Regions from separate parts of the Homo sapiens genome. Here region 1 is linked to region 2. Evidence: fine-mapped expression QTL. Tissue or cell type: whole blood. Region 2 holds a variant in brackets; the other region holds the start of a gene. All regions are shown on one strand. Distances are from middle to middle.

The links. PIP is the estimated chance that this variant, and not a neighbour inherited with it, causes the effect.
Region 1: LINC02724 starts here. The variant in region 2 is fine-mapped to the expression of LINC02724 in whole blood (INTERVAL, PIP above 0.99).

What each region holds. Positions count from the first base shown.
Region 1 is chr11:64,445,724-64,453,723 of GRCh38, forward strand. LINC02724 (long intergenic non-protein coding RNA 2724) reads left to right here and starts at 3,334. Exons shown (of 2, transcript NR_073177.1): 1 at 3,334-3,929; 2 at 4,174-5,934. RefSeq lists an enhancer at 3,673-3,922, a cis regulatory region at 3,812-4,081 and a silencer at 3,859-4,054.
Region 2 is chr11:64,403,908-64,412,166 of GRCh38, forward strand. It overlaps LOC105369341 (a long non-coding RNA gene), which reads right to left. Exons shown (of 4, transcript XR_001748069.2): 3 at 8,253-8,259; 4 at 6,171-7,010. Among named protein-coding and RNA genes, the nearest start is that of LINC02723, 12 kb to the left of the region's middle. RefSeq lists an enhancer at 3,186-3,817. The variant G/T (reference allele first, on the strand shown) is at 3,380.

The DNA.
Region 1 (8,000 bases), 42 kb after region 2:
GCAGACTTGATTCCAGAGAGAGTGAAAGCAATGGCAGCTGATCCGTGGCAGTGCGCAGGACCCAGTAAAAAGGTAGCCATGGTGTCTTTACTTGACCAGCTGGAGCACAGTTTCTGTTCCTGTCTGGGAGGCCTGCAAGCCTGGTTCTCCAGCCCACCCAGAAAGTCTGTGGTGGTACTTGATACTCATCCCTTTTCTGCTTAAATCAGCTAAGGTCAGTTTCTGTTGCTTGCGAGAAAAAACTATCATATTAACCCTCCATCTGTATTATCTGTTACAAATCTTTTTTCCAGTTGTCAGTAGTCTTTCAACCATACATATATATATATGTGTGTGTGTGTGTGTGTGTGTGTGTGTGTATAGTTGTATAGTTATATATATTATATATATAATATATAATAGCTTTCTCAGAGAGAAGTTTGAGATTCTCATGCAGCCGCATAGATCAACCATTTAGTTTCTGGTTTTCAGGTCAGGTTTATTTATTTATTTTTATTTATTTATTTATTTTGAGACAGAGTCTTGCTTTTTCGCCTAGGCTGGAGTGCAGTGGTACAATCACAGCTCACTGCCTCCTGGGTTGAAGTGATTCTCCTGCCTCAGCCTCCTGAGTAGGTGGGATTACAGACGACCACCACTACATCTGGCTAATTTTTGTATTTTTAATAGAGATGGGGTTTCACCACGTTGGTTGGCCAGGCTGGTCTCGACTTATGACCTCAAGTGATCCGCCCACCTTGGCCTTCCAAAGTACCCAGCCTCAGGTCATGTTTAAAAAGGCTTTCCTTAATCCAAGATTATAAATATATTTAATTAAGTTAAAAAACTTAAGTTGTTATTGGATTCAAATATTAATATTTAAATATTTTGTTTAAACGTATACAAAATTAAAAAATTCAAACACTACTACTAGGCTTAAAATTATATAAATAAAAAAGAGTTCTCTGCTCCATTTCTCTGATTCCCAAAACTCCCTCATTAGGGGCACCCACTTTCAGTTTTTGAGTAGATGTTTCATCTTTTTCTTTCTTTCTTCTTTTTTTTTTCGAGATGGAGTTTTGCTTTTGTTGCCCAGGATGGAGTGCAATGGTGCGATCTTGGCTCACTGCAACCTCCGCCTGCCGAGTTCAGGTGATTCTCCTGCCTCAGCCTCCTGAGTAGCTGGGACTACAGGCATACACCACCACGCCCGGCTAATTTTTGTATTTTTAGTAGAGATGGAATTTCACCATGTTGGTCAGACTGGTCTTGAATTCCCAACCTCAGGTGATCCACCTGCCCCGGCCTCCCAAAGTGCTGGGATAACAGGCGTGAGCCACTGCGCCCGGCCTCATCTTTTTCTTAAACCTTCATTTCTAAGTGAAATGGCTTCTACTCTTAATTCCTGATTTTCTTCACTTTCTGATCTCGGATTTGAGATCTCACTTGCTACCATGAAAAATGAGACTTTATTTTCTTACCATCCACACTTCTATTATCTGTCACTGCTCAGCCTCTTTTAAATCTATGGGCCCCCTCTGTCTTTTCTTTTCATTTCTTTTCTTTTCTTTTCAGATGGAGTCTTGCTCACTGCAACCTCTGCCTCCCGGGTTCAAGCGATTCTCCTGCCTCAGCCTCCGGAGCAGCTGGGATTACAGGTGCACACCACCACATCTGGCTAATTTTTGTATTTTTAGTACAGAAGGGGTTTCACCATGTTGGCCAGGCAGGTCTGGAACTCCTGACCTCAAGTGATCTGCCCACCTCAGCCTCCCAAAATGCTGGGATTACAGGCGCGAGCCACTGCACCCCGCCCGTTTTTTTCTTTTCTTTATAAAAGTTGAAATACACTAGCTGTATCTAGTTTCGGGATGTGCATGATAATTGGATACATTCCTATAATCAAATCAGGGTAATTGGGATGTCCATCATCTTAAATATTTATCTTTTCCTTGTGCCAGGAACATTAGGATTATTCTTTTCTAGCAATTTTGAAGTGTACAATCGATTAATGTCACCCTACTGATCTATTGAACACCAGATGTTATTTCGTCTATGTAAGTGTGTATTTGTACCCACTCATCAACCTTTCTTCATCCCCTCCTTTCCCCCTCCCCTTCCTGGCCTCTAGTAAGCAGGTTGCTGTTGCAAATTACGTATTGAAGAAACTGGCGCTTTGTCCTATGGTTGCCTGCAGTCTGGATTTTGCTGGTCACGTCCCCTTAGCTTTGTTGAGCAGGCTCCCCAGTCCCTGTATTTCTTGTAATTTGATAGTTGGCAAACTTTTTCCATAAAGAGCCAGCGAGTAAATATTTTGGGCTTTGTGGGCTATAACAGTCTCTGTGGCAATTCCTCAACTCTGCTGTCACAGCGAGGCCGCAGCCAGAGACAACATGTAAACAGCGGAGCAGGGCTCCGTTCCCACAGCGCGGGATCTGGGTCCCAGTTTGCACAGCCCTGAGTCGAGGGTGGATCCAATCCAGGTCTGATACAGCATTTCAATGGTGATGCCGCAGCCTTCCACACTGAGGCACTTAACACCCCATTGTTCCCAATTGCATTTTAACTGAAAAAATACAAAAAGAGATCAAAACTGAAAGTGCAGTTTCCTCATGGTCCCACCACATTTTGGAGAAGTGTATAAATGGAGAAGTGAAAGCTCCATCTTCTGCCCCTTCCCCATGAGAGAGCCTCTATTCACAGCCAGGTCAGTTTCTTCCAGACTGTTAACATCCGTGTGAGTGCACATGTCTACACTGCGTGGAGCCTGCCTGCTTCCTGCCCCGCAGGCGTGTCTGCTGTGGGAAGGCTGGAGTTCTGACCTTCCCCCTCCCCCTCTGGGTGACAGGTGGCTCAGTTCTCTTCCCTGCCACGTTCAAGACCAGGTTGGGGGAGGGGGTGAATGTCACTATTCCCCTGACTGCCACTGTGGAGAGGGGAGACCCTCGCCCCTTTTCTGAATTTTTCCTTACCCCTTTCCTTGGAATAAAGCAAACACCAGACCCAAATGGATTTTAAGTGACACTTTCCCAAGAGTCTGGAGAGGGGACAGAGACTGGACGTGGTGTGTCCTGCCTGAGCCGAGTCATCTGGTTACGAGGGCAGGGGCAGGCTGGGGTGGGGCTCATGCGCCCCGGAAGCACCCTGGCTCCTCGCTCTCCCATGCCTCTCCCTTTATGTCCTCTGCTGTCCAGCGCCTGGGCCCCGGCCCTCCCTGGGACACCATCCTGCCCTGCCCGAGTCGTGGCTCTCCAGTCTCTTTCGGGGACTCGCCCCTGGCACCCACTAGATGGCGCTCCCGGCCACTCAGCTCCCCCTGCCTCGCTTGGGGTGGTGCTGGACGTCGGGAGCGCTGGCCTCTGCTCTGCTGATTTGCAGGTGGGAGTGCAGGGTGAGCCCGGCGCAGGGGATAGGAGGTGGGGGAGTCGAGAGCTGGAGTCAGGCGCCGCTCACGCTGGGATGACGGAGTGTTAACCTCAGACTCTGGGTCCCTTTGGGCCGAAGCTTTAAGAAAACAGGGGCAGCGAGCCCGGCGTCCCAAGGAGCCTTGCCAAACTGGGCATGGAGAACGGGCCTCCTGGATGGCCACCCGCCCAGCTGCCAAAGAGGCCGGAGAGCTGGAGCCGGGACTTGGAGGATCTTCTTCAGAGAGGCAGGAGGGCGGTCCGAACGTGCCCCCACCCCTGACCTCAAGCCCATGTGGAGAGGGCCAACAGAGCCTCTTGGAGAGCTGGATTTGCGTCCTCTGCAGCTTGGGGGACACGTCGTTGATGGTGACTGACACGCCCCAGAGATAGTGACATGATGATTAAGAGTGACAGCCTGAGGGAGCTGAGCGCAGCATGGCTGGTCTGGCAGCTGCTGTCGGTGTCGCGACCCCACCCCACTTCCCCGGCTCCCTGCCTCCTTCGCTGGAGAAGCATCCTCAGCCAATGGAGCCACAATACCTGGTACGTTCAGGCGACGCCCACAGCCCACGGCTAACTGTACAAAAGACTGTTCCCTCGCCTGCCTCTAGATGGCGATACCTCTGCCCCAGGGCCCCCTGCATATCTGCCAGAGCTGTATTTACCCTGGGACCACGCCTTTACCGAGTCCTTTCTCCTTCCCCGCCCCTCTGCCCTCACATCCTGGGCGGCTTGTCCCAGGATGAGCCCTCCCCTAGTAAATCCCTGTCTTGGGCTCTGTTTTCAGACAGCTGAAGGCAGGGAACAGCAGGAGGGGCCCCAGGAAGCTGGCCCCAAGGACGGGATGCTGCAGGAGGATGCCCCGCTGGCCCCTGGTGACTGGAGCCCGTTGCGGAGGCCCCTGGCACGAGGTGGCAGAGCAGCTGCTCAGGCCTCCGCCTGTGGTCACCTGGGACAGGACTCAGGTGGACGGGGATGCCCGGCTCGTTTAATATCACTGATGTTGAGAGACAGATGGGAAAATAGCCGTGAGAAGGACGTGGAGTGGGGAGGCTGTCACTGAATACTACTGACACTTAGAAGAGGGAAAATGACAAGTTCAGGGCCACGCATCACCAATTTAAAGCAAAGTCAGGATTCCTTGGCAGAATTTAACGAAATGCTTCTCTTCTATAGCCAGGGGTCAGAGGGCAGAAGACAAGGTGCAGGACTCCAGAGAAGGCCAAATTTCCAGCCCAGGGAAGTCCCTTCTCCAAAGTCAGGGCCCCAAAGGGAAGGGTGGGGTCCCTGATATCTGAGATGGACTATCTGAGGAGACACTCTTGAGACATTGAACCCCCAGATTCTCCTGTACCTCCTGGCCTGCAGAAGTGACCCATTGCCTCTGTTGGAAGACAGAGGTCCTCTTTTGCTTAAAGACCATGCAGAAACTAAGGGAAGGGACCTTACAAGATAAGGAGTTCCTCTCTCCAGCATCTGTCCCCACCTCCCCTCCTGACCACCAGGCTCAAAGCTGGATCATATCTCAGCATGACCTGACCAAGGATGTGCTTTGCATGCCAGGGACCAAGAGGGATTAACAAGCAGAGGAGTGGTGGGAGCAAGCCAGCAGGGACCAGCCGGGTCTAGAGAATGTTCCTAGATGTGGACTCTGAAGGTTCTAGATCAAGGGAGGCTGCATAGTAGCTGGAGACTGGAGAGTTAATTAGTACAGAAAGACTCCCTAACCCCTAAAAAGGCCCTGGGAAGATTCTAATATGTTGCTTGGGAGGGTTCTTTTTTTTTGAGACAGAATTTCTCTCTGTCGCCCAGGCTGGAGTACAGTGGTGCGATCTTGGCTCTGCAACCTCCACTTCCCAGGTTCAAGCGATCCTCCTGTCTCAGCCTCCCGAGTACCTGGGATTACAGGCATGCACCACCATGCCCAGATAATGTATTGTTTTTTTTTTTTTTAGTGGAGATGGGATTTTGCCATGTTGGCCAGGCTGGTCTCGAACTCTTGACCTCAAGTGATCTGTCCACCTTGGCCTCCCAAAGTGCTGGGATTACAGGTGTGAGCCACAGTGCCCAGCACTTGAGGCAGTTCTTGAAAGCTTGGAAGAAGTGATAGTGCATAGGCGATGAAGTGGAGATGTCAGAACAGCCCTGGAGGAAGGTATGCAAAGTCTCAGAGAAGTGGACACGCCAGAATGGCTCTTCTATTGTAGGTTGTACAGGAAAACAGTGTGACAAGAGTGATGCCATCTTAAAACCGCCATATGATGATGAATGTTTCACCCCCATATACCAAGCTGCTCTGCAGTAAGCTCTTTAAACAATGCCTGTACCATACATAACCCTTTGTAAAGATGCTTAGCTAACCCCCTCCCCAAGTGGCTATGAGTTTTGCATTAAAATCGGAGATATGGCCACCTGCACATGTTTTACCCTAAAAGCTTGCTACATAAAAGTACTTTCTGCAGGGCAGATGTGGGGATCTACCATTTTGTGGCAGCCCGGAACATCGCTTCTGCTCCTAAGTCCCTATTAAATATTTCTTTACAAGAAACTGGATTTGTCAGCCTCTTTCTTCAGCCTCTCAGCTCCCTCGGCCTTTGCAGGTAGATTTGCACAGACCTGTTCACCACGAAACAGGGTGGAAAACCCACCAGCTGGCCATGTTCTTTGGAAGGTTCCAGCTCTTTACCCAAATGATAAGGCCTGAGCTGTCGAGGAGACATTGGCGTTGCTGAGCAGCCCTGTGAGGGTTGCCCGGGCCTGGCAGGGGTGGGCTGCCATGGATCTGAGCTCTCCCATAGCCACAGGGACAACTGGATTCCCGAGTAGCACAGGTCAAAGGGCAGCACTTAACTGTCTGTCACAAGCAAGGGGGTGAGAGGATCAGAATGGACAGCAGGGTTGGGACAGCCGCGGGGGAGCCTGCCCTGCCCAGCCTATGGAGATGGCTCATAGGACATAGCATTTCCAGGGGGAAGGTGTCTAGGCAGCCGGCAAGGATTTTGTTCAACAAATAGAATGAAAAGCAACCAAGAATCGATGAGCAGAAGTCCAAGGCCGGATGCCCCAACAGAAAGGAATGATCCCCTGCTGTTTCCAAATCTGAACTTGTTCTCAATCTCAGAATCCATCAGTGGAAGAGGGGCAGGTCCCAAGAGGAAGGACCCCGCAGCCATACCATCCCCCAGGACTGTATCGGTTTCCTGGGGCTGCTGTAAAAACCTGCCCCAGACTGGGTGGCTTAAACAATAGAAATGCATTGTCCTGGCCAGGCACGGTGGCTCACGCCTGTAATCCAGCACTTTGGGAGGCCAAGGTGGGCGGATCACAAGGTCAGGAGATCGAGACCATCCTGGCTAACACGGTGAAACCCCGTCTCTACTAAAAATACAAAAAAAAAAAAAATTAGCCAGGCGTGGTGGTGGGCGCCTGCAGTACCAGCTACTCAGGAGGCTGAGGCAGGAGAATGGTGTGAACCTGGAAGGCAGATCTTGTGGTGAGCCAAGATCGTGCCACTGCACTCCAGCCTGGGCGACAGACCGAGGCTCTGTCTCAAAAAAAAAAAAAAAAATGCATTGTCTCCCACAGTTCTGGAGACTGGAAGTCCAAAATTGAGGCATCAGCAGGGCTGGCTCCCTCCGAGGGCCGTGAGGGGTGTCTGCGCTGCCTCTCTTCTAGCTCCCTGGCAGTCTTAGGCGCTCCCTGGTTTAGAGATGCATCACCCCGACCTCTGCCTTCATCTTCCCGTGATGTTCTGCCCATGTGCTTACTTGTCTCTGCGTCCAAATTCTCTCCTTGCCCCACCCATTTTTTGTTTTTTGAGACAGGGTCTCACTCTGTCTACACTCCAGGATGGAGTGCAGTGGCACGATCATGGCTTACTGCAGCCTCGACTTCCTGGGCTCAAGCGATCCTCCCGTCTCAGCCTGCTGAATAGCTGGACTATAGTTGTGCACCACCACGACAGCCTAATTTTAGAAATTTTTAGAGATGGGGTCTTGCTGTGTTGCCCAGGCTGGTCTCAAACTCCTGGCCTCAAGGGATCCTCCCACCTCCAATTTCCCCTTTTTATAAGGACACAGTCGTAATGAATTAGGGCCTATCCTAATAACCTCATCTTAGCTTGATCATCTGCAAAGACTCTATTTCCAAATAAGGTCTCATTCACGGTCCTGGGGATCAGGATTTCCCCAGTACCGGGGGAATGGTGGAGGCATGATCCAACACATAACAGGGAACTTAGCCATTTTCTCCAGCAGCCGTACACTGGGAAGAGGGCATGGCCAGCTCTGGTCCTGTGGGAATTGGGTGGATGGAGTTAGAAAAGCAGGGGATTTATGGAGGTAGTACCTGTGACAGGTAAAGGAGGGGGCAGGAGGGGGCTGGGGACTTTCAGGCTCTGAGGAGGGTCTGACACCTGTGAGAGGAGATGAGGAAGGAAGGAGGATTGGGTAGGAAAAGCCTTGGACTGCAGTGCAGCTTGGAGGGAGTCTGGCCAGCCCAGCAGGGGCTCTGGAACCAAGATTGCTCAAAGAGGAGTCCCACGTTGGGAAGGAATGCCAGGGTCTCCTACCCCTGCTGCAGGTAGGCACTGGCTGGGAGCTGCCTGGGGCAGCA
Region 2 (8,259 bases):
CATCACCCTCACACAGCTTCTTCACTGTGGCAGCGGCAGTTCCTTCCTGCAGTAGCTGCTGGATCCAGTTTGCAGTTTTTCCAGCAGGCACACCAGCCCCTTCAAACCCCTCTGGAGACATCACAGCACCTGCTGACCCTGTCTGCTCCTTAGAGGTCTGCATTCTAGCCTTCCATGTTTTCATAATTCCAGTCCCTTCTTCATTCCTCCAGCCCTGGGGGTGTGTGTTGCTTCCTGGAAGGTTCTCCCCTTAGAGTTCTCTTTTTTGCATTTTTAGTTTTTCAATGCCTAGTTAATAATTTTTTATATTAAATTTCCTCTGTTAACACAACACATGGTTTCTGTCTCCTGATGGGACCATGACTGATATAGACCTGGATCATTGCAGATTCTGCCTTGTGGATTCCCCATAATGAGAGAGATAAAATAATTAGAGTCTGATTTTGCCGAAAGTACCTGTTGTTCCAAAAAGCCCTCCCCATCCTCAGCCCAACACCTTCTCCCTGCCCAACATCTAAGCCAGTCGTGACTGCACCCAGAGTGCTGCTTGGCTCTGAACCCCCAGCTCCTAGGATGGACCAGGCACATCGCCTCAGGGCTCAGACCACTCCTGCTTCCCCACCTAACATCACAGGGTCACCGTGAAATTCAGGGTCCAGCCTGTTCTGTGATTATCTTTCTGGACTCTTCTCACAACTGCCAAGTTTTCTGTAACCACTCCTGGGGTCTCCAGCTCCTTAAAGGAGGCCCCCCCACAATGAGAGCTTCAGGAGGAGGGAGGCTTTTGAGGAGCACCTGTCCTGGAATCTCCCGGGTGGGCCATTCCAGCTGACTCTGGAGGTGTTCTAGTTACCCCTGTTAGATTTCTCATCTCCAAGTCACCTCCCCAATCCAGTGACAATAAAAGAAGGCTTCCTTCTCCTAGTTCCTTCTGCCAGGGCACTTAGGAGGGTGGGATGGCAAAATTTCCCTTGCCCCCATTCCTACCTGCCTCCCCTGACCTCTAAGGGCCCAACTCTTCTCCTAAGGCAATTCCCCTCTTCCTCCAGTTCAGCCAGGATGACTTCCTTAATTTTTCAGTCACTTTCTTCTTCTTCTTTTTTTTTTTTTCTTTTTGAGACAAAGTCTCACTCTGTCGCCCAGGCTGGAGTGCAGTGGCGTGATCTGGGCTCACTGCAACCTCCACCTCCTGGGTTCAAGTGACTCTCGTGCCTCAGCCTCCCGAGTAGCTGGGATTACAGGCGCCTGCCACCACGCCCAGCTAATTTTTGTATTTTTAGTAGAGACAGGGTTTCACCATGTTGGCCAGGCTGGTATCAAACTCCTGACCTCAGGTGATCCTCCCACCTCAGCCTCCCAAAGTGCTGGGATTACAGGTGTGAGCCACCGCGCCGGGCCATTTTTCAGTCACTTTTTCCCAGCTCCTGTTCTGGCTGTAACATTTGTTTTTGAGCCAATTCCATTTCTGCTTGAGTCTGTATGCACAGCTAGTAGCTGGTGACAGCGTCCTGCAGGAATGCATTCACATCTCCTTCTTAGCTTTCGGGTTTACAATAATTACACTAATTTGCCTTTCAGAGACAAAAGAAGATAGCGGTTAAGAGGCAGAGTCCAGAGCCGGACTGCCTAGGTTAAAACTGTGGCCCCTTCCACCAACTAGCTGTGGGACCTTGGGCACATTATTTATTTATTTACTTTTTTTTTGAGACAGGGTTTTGCTCTGTCGCCCAGGCTAGAGTGCAGCAGCATCATCATAGCTCACTGCAGCCTTGACCTCCTGGGCTCAAGTGATTCTCCCACCTCAGCTTCCCAAGTAGCTGGAAATATAGGGGCACACCACCACGGTCAGCTAATTTTTTTTTTTGTAGACTCCCACTGCGGTCAGCTAATTTTTTTTTTTTTTTTTTTTTTTTTGTAGACAAGGAGTCTCAGCATGTTGCCCAGGCTGATCTTGAACTCCTAGGTTCAAGTGACCCTCCTGCCTTGGCCTCCCATAGTGCTGGGATTACAGGTGTGAGCCACCACACCTGGCCTGGGCACATTATTTAAGGTCTTCATGTCTCAGTCTCCTCATCGCAAAATGCATATAATAGATTACCCTATCTCAGAGGCAGGGTGTGAGGATTTGATGGGCTAACCCACAGAACGCTGAGAAATGTCCCCGTCACAAAGCAAGCACCCACTGAGTATTCACTGTGATCATTATTCTTGACTTCACCCCAAGAAGAAGACTCATTCCCCGGAAGGGAGTTGAATCAAATACACATTTAGCTTTTGCAGATTGTATTAAATGTAGCTGGTGGAAAAAGGAGAAAGAATCATTTACATATTGCTGAGCTCCTGTTGGAGGCAGGTCCCTCAATGGGCCTCCTGGAGTGGGCAGGAGAGGCCCCTCTGGGATGCAGCTCCCTAGCATGACCCCAGGGCCAGCGTGTCACAGCTGACTGCCAGTGGAGGATTTGCAGACCACGTTTTCCACATAGTGCAGCCTCAGTGCGAGCCAGCTGCAGCCCTGGAGGGAAGCCCAGCTGTGCCGGACTTCCTGAGAGATGAGGACTCCAAAATAGCATCTTCCAGAGGGATTTTTCGAGGGTCACTGATTCCACGTGATTTTTGCCTCCTGCTTTGGAATCTAACTCTGTGTAATGCCATGTATACAGCAGGGGCCCTGTGGAGTAAGGGGTTAACTCAACAGGCCTGGGCTGCCCAAACCCTGCACATTCCAAAGAGAGGACTGGCCCTTGCCTGGCCCCTGGGAGATAAGCTCTGCGCCCTTGGAATATCCTGCCTAACAGGAGTGTTTTTTTCACCTGGGGCCTTGGGCCACCTGAGACAGTTTATGCCAGCAATGTGATTTATGGCGAATGCCTGTTTTTTTTCGCCTGGGGCCCTGGGCCAGGCTGTATCAGTCTGCCTTAAGCTAGGGCTGGAGATGAAATAGTTAAGGTCAGTCACGTGGGTGCCACATGCCTCTATGACTGACCCCTAATAAGACTTGGGACATTAGGGCTTGGCTGAGCATCTCTGGTTGCAATATTTCGTATGTGTTGTCACACCTCTATGGACTGAATCTCTGTGTCCCCCTAAAATTCTTTTTTTTTTTTTTGAGATGGAGTTTTGCTCTTGTTGCCCAGGCTGGAGTGCAATGGTGCGATCTCAGCTCACCACAACCTCCATCTCTTGGGTTCAAGCGTTTCTCCTGCCTCAGCTTCCCGAGTAGCTGGGATTAACAGGCATGCGCCACCACACCTGGCTAATTTTGTATTTTTAGTAGAGACAGGGTTTCTCCATGTTGGCCATGCTGGTCCCGAACTCCCGACCTCAGGTGATCTGGCTGCCTCGGCCTCCCAAAGTGTTGGGATTACAGGCGTGGGCCACT[G/T]CATCTGGCCTGGCATCCTTTTTCTAAAGAGCTCCCCACCTCCATTCTATTAGGCTCAGGGGTCACAAAACCTAGCTCCACCCGGAATTCCTGGCCTCTGGAAGGGCCGGCTCAGGAGAAGGGCCCATGGGCTTCAGGGTAAATCCCGTCCCTGCCAAAGGTCAGAGTTGAACCCTTGGGGCTTTTGCAATTTAAACTCCAGGTTTGCTAAGCTGACTTAGAAATTGAGTGAGGAGGGAAAGCAAATTAATGAGCAAAATTCCGCAGTGGACTCCCAGGGCCTCGCGCCCCACAAAAGACCCACGCACCGAGCTTGGACTGGGTCTCAGCTCAGGGGCCTTCTGCGCTTGTGGAGTGTGAGCTCCTGGACAAGCCTTGACTCATCCTAAGATGAAACCCTTCCCCTGTGTGTGTCTGTGTGTGTGAGTCTATGTGTGGGAGTGTGTGTGTCTGTGTGTGTCTGTCTCTGTGTGTGTGTGAATGTGTGTGTCTCTGTGTCTGTGTGTGTGTGTCTGTGTTCATGTCTGTGTGTGTCTGTGTATATGTCTGTGTGTGTCTGTGTATATGTCTGTGTGTCTGTGTATGTGTGTGTGTGTCTGTGTCTATGTGTGTATGGGTGTGCCTGTGTGCCTGCGTATGTCTGTGTTTCTGTGTGTCTCTGTGTGTGTGTGTGTGTATGTCTGTGTGTGTTTTCCTAAATTCTTTGTTTTTCTGTCACTCCATCTGCTGTGGCACACCCTTCAATATCAGCTGGAATTGCGATAAAAGCCAGTCGCATCCTGCACAGGCTCAAGACCTGTAGGTGGCCAGAAACACTGATCCTTCCTCATAGTCCTCAGAGCCCCAAAAGCCAGTCCTTCCAAGGTTTGTTTTTGTTTTTTGAGATAGGATCTCGTTCAACAGAACAGCCCAGGCTGGAGTGCAGTGGTGGCAAGATCACGGCTCACTGCTGCCTCAACCTCCCAGCCTCAAGTGAGCCTCCCTCCTCAGCCTCCAAATAGCTAGGTGCACACCACCACACCAGGCTAATTTAAAAATTTTTTTGTAGAGTTAGGGTCTTGCCATGTTGCCCAGGCTGGTCTCGAACTCCTGGGCTGAAGTGATTCTCCCACCATGGCCTCCCAAAGTGTTGGGATTACAGGTGTGAGCCACCTCGCCTGGCCCCGATCTCTCCATATAAGGACACTCACCCCATCATGAGGGCTCTTCCAAGAGCTCCTAAAGGGCGTCTTGGTCATTGAATGAGAGTTACAGATAAAGATTCTTTGCTCGGCCAAACTTTAGTCAGGCTTCTGAATCTTCTGCTAGGCCCATCTGTGCACTTCCTTGTAAAATGCAGTTCTAGGCCAGGCGCGGTGGCTCACGCCTGTAATCCCAGCACTCTAAGAGGCTGAGGTGGGCGGATCACTTGAGGTCAGAAGTTCGAGACCAGCTTGCAACATGGTGAAACCCTGTCTCCACCAAAAAAATACAAAAGTTGGCTGGGCGTGGTGGTGCATGCCTGTAATCCCAGCTACTTGGGAGGCTGAGGCAGGAGAATCACTTGAACCCGGGAGATGGAGGTTGCAGTGAGCTGAGATCATGCCCCTGCACTTCAGCCTGGGCCACAGAGTGAGATTCCGTCTCAAAAAAAAAAAAAAAAAAATCCAGTTTTAGCGAAAGAACCCTGGCCTGTGTCAGCAAGAATCCTGTTAGGTCGGGTTAAGCAGAATCTCCCCTACCCCTTGGTAATTTTCCATCCACTGACCCCCACACTCCTTGGCCATAAATTCCTACTTGCCTGTGCTATATTCAGAGTGGAGCCTAATCTCTCTCCCCTACCGCAAGATCTTATTGTGGGGGTCCCTGTATCAATCTCCACGGTCCTGGATAAAGTTGGCTCGGCCATGCTTTACCAATGTCATGGAATAATTGTTTCTTTAACATTCACCAAGGCCTTCTTGGTCATTGCACCGACAGCTGGAGATCCGAGGTGTTGATCACTCAGCATCGCCTCCTCCACGGTCACCTGAGAACAGATTCCAGGACCCAGGGGAGGGTTGCGGCTAATGAGCAGAAGCTCGATGTCAGACTTCTGGATCATCGGACCCAGGGTCTCTGCCGGCCACTCTGAATTAAGCGCTCCTGTTCACAGGCAGATGGTGCAGACCGTGCCCCTGGGGCTCAGGCAGGTCCAGAGAGAGGAGAGAGCAGAGAGCAGGCCCCGGCCTTTTCTTGTAGTACTCTTGCCCCTCCGCCCCTCCGTCCCCCCGCCCCCACCACCTCCGGGTGCAGTCGGACTCCCGAGCTTCGCGCTTCGCATCGGATAAATCACTGCACCTCTTGGGAGCTCAGGGAATGAGGGCCTGCGCAGCCGGGCCAAGGGCACCAGGACTTTGTGAGTGGGGAAGGGAGTGGGAATCCTTTCAACTATGGCTGAGGCATTTGCGGGAAACAGTTCATTCCCCAATCCCCCTCGCTATCCCCCACAACTACTGAGCTTCCTCTCCCTCCTCCCGGCACCCCCTCTCCCCTCCCCGCCTCCTTCTCTCTCTGGTTCCTTTGCACACACCAGTCTTCTGCCTACAGGCCCTTCCTCTCCATCCTGGCCTACGAGACTCCTGCGCACCCCTCAAGAATCTGCTCTGTCCGGCTCCGGGAAGTCTTGCCACACTTTCCAGTGGCTTAGGGGGCCCCTCCCTGTTCATCCCCCTCCCGCCTGTTCTTCCCCCTCCCTCTTCTTCCCCCTCCCTCCTGTCTCTGGCTCATTTCATGTAGTTCCCATTTGATTTCTTCTTGCACACCCTTTTCAGTTTATGTTCTCTTGCTGTATTTTATGAATGCTCATTAAGCCACCTTAAATCCCATCTGGAATGACTTGGGAGGGGGCCAATGCTGCTGCCCTGTGACTCTTGAGAGTTTGATATAAGACGACCACAGCCGCCAGCTGCAGCCCACGTCCTGGGACTGGAAGATCTCATGATTAGCTCTCCTGGCTCTGCACCAGCTGCCTAAGAAACGTGAGCCTTCTCAAGCTGCCGCCATGAAATATCTGTCCATAAAGATGACTTTTATGGGGAGCCGTGCTGTGGTTCTGAAACGAGATTGACACCTTAGCTTGGTTCATGCATATAGCACTCCTGGGAATTATGTGGAAGAAAGGTCTGGCCATGGGGCCGGGGTCGGGGGAGGCAGGCGAGGTGGAGGTGCCCAGGGTGTGAAAACTGAGGAAGTGATGACTCTCAGGCTGTGCCAGAGCTGGGTGGACACTGCCTGGCCCCACGTGATGTCCCCCAGTGTGTCCCCTCCCTGCCTCCTGCTGTCTCATCCCAGATGAAGGCTCTCACTTCCACGCCAGGCTCTGCCTATCTCAGGATGAGACTGTCAACTCCGTCCACAGGAGATGCCACACGTGTTGTAAACAGATGTGACTGGCATAGAATATTCCCCAAGTCTGAGTTGTGTGGTTTTGAGTGACACATGTCCTGAATGGGACACTCCTATCCAATCCAGATCCTTCCATGCAGCCTCGCCTCCATGCCAGCAGATCTGCTGAGTTGTCTTTGCATTCTTGGTTTCCTATCTCCTGGATAGGATGGATGCCTGTCTGACACATGCATGTGTACACACACGCACACATGCACACCCACCTCTGCAAAGCAAATACAAATACATGGGCTTAGGTGAATTGGAATCCATTCATTTGTCAGATATTTCTTAGGCATGTTCTCTATGCTGGGCACTGTCCCACACAATGAGGACATAGCAAGGAACAAAAAAGGGAAAAGTCCCACCCTCATGGAGCTTATATTTTGGGGTAGGAGTCAGTCCATAGATACAAGCCTAAGGAATAAAATATGCCATATGCTAGGCAAGACTACATCAAGGAAGGGGTGGGAGTGTTGGGATGGAGCTGAAACTTCAGGAAGGACCAGCCAAGGAGGCCTAAAGGCATGAGGAAGTGAGCAGTAAGCCCACAGATGTCAGGACAGGAGATCCAACAAAGAGCTGGGGGTAGCAGGTATGTGGGGGCAGCAGGAGGCCAGTGGGTGGCCAGAGAGAGAGAGAGAACCCAGGATCACAGTGGGGACAAGGTGGGGGAACACAGTGGCCTGGTGGGTTGTAGGAAGGACTTTGGCTTTGACCACGATGCGATGCTGCTTGGGGAGGTTTAAAGCAGGGGCAGGGCGGGAGATGGGACCTGACTTTCGATTTAACAGGATCCCCCTGGCTGCCTCGAGGAACGCAGGCCTCTGAGGGTCGGAACTGGACTGGGAGGCTGGTCAGCAGGCTCCTGCTGTCCTCTGTTGGGAGGTGACAGTGGCTAAGACTGGCATGGAGGCAGCGAGGTGGTGGTAAGTGACAAATTGTGTGTGTGTGTGTGTGTGTGTCTTTTTTTTTTAATTTTTAAATTTTTATTTATTTATTTTTGAGACGGAGTCTTGCTCTGTCACCCAGGCTGGAGTGCAAGATCTCGGCTCACTGCAACCTTCGCCTCCCGAGTTCAAGCAGTTCTCTTGCCTCAGGCTCCCAAGTATCTGGGATTATAGGCGCTTGCCACCATGCTCTGCTAATTTTTGTATTTTTAGTAGAGACAGGGTTTCACCACCTTGGCCAGGCTGGTCTCCAACTCCTGACCTCAGGTGATCCGCCCGCCTCAGCCTCCTAAAATGTTGGGATTACAGGTGTGAGCCACCGCACCCAACCTAGATTCTGGGTATATTTGTATATATTTTGAGTGCAAAGCTGATGGGATTGACTGACAGGTGGGATGTATGGGAGTGGGAGAGAAGCCAAGGAAGAGCCAAGGCTGATTAGTTGGTTTATTTATTCGGGTAAAATTCACATAATGTTAATTTAACCATTTTAGAGTGTATTCAGAGGTATTTAGTACCTTCACA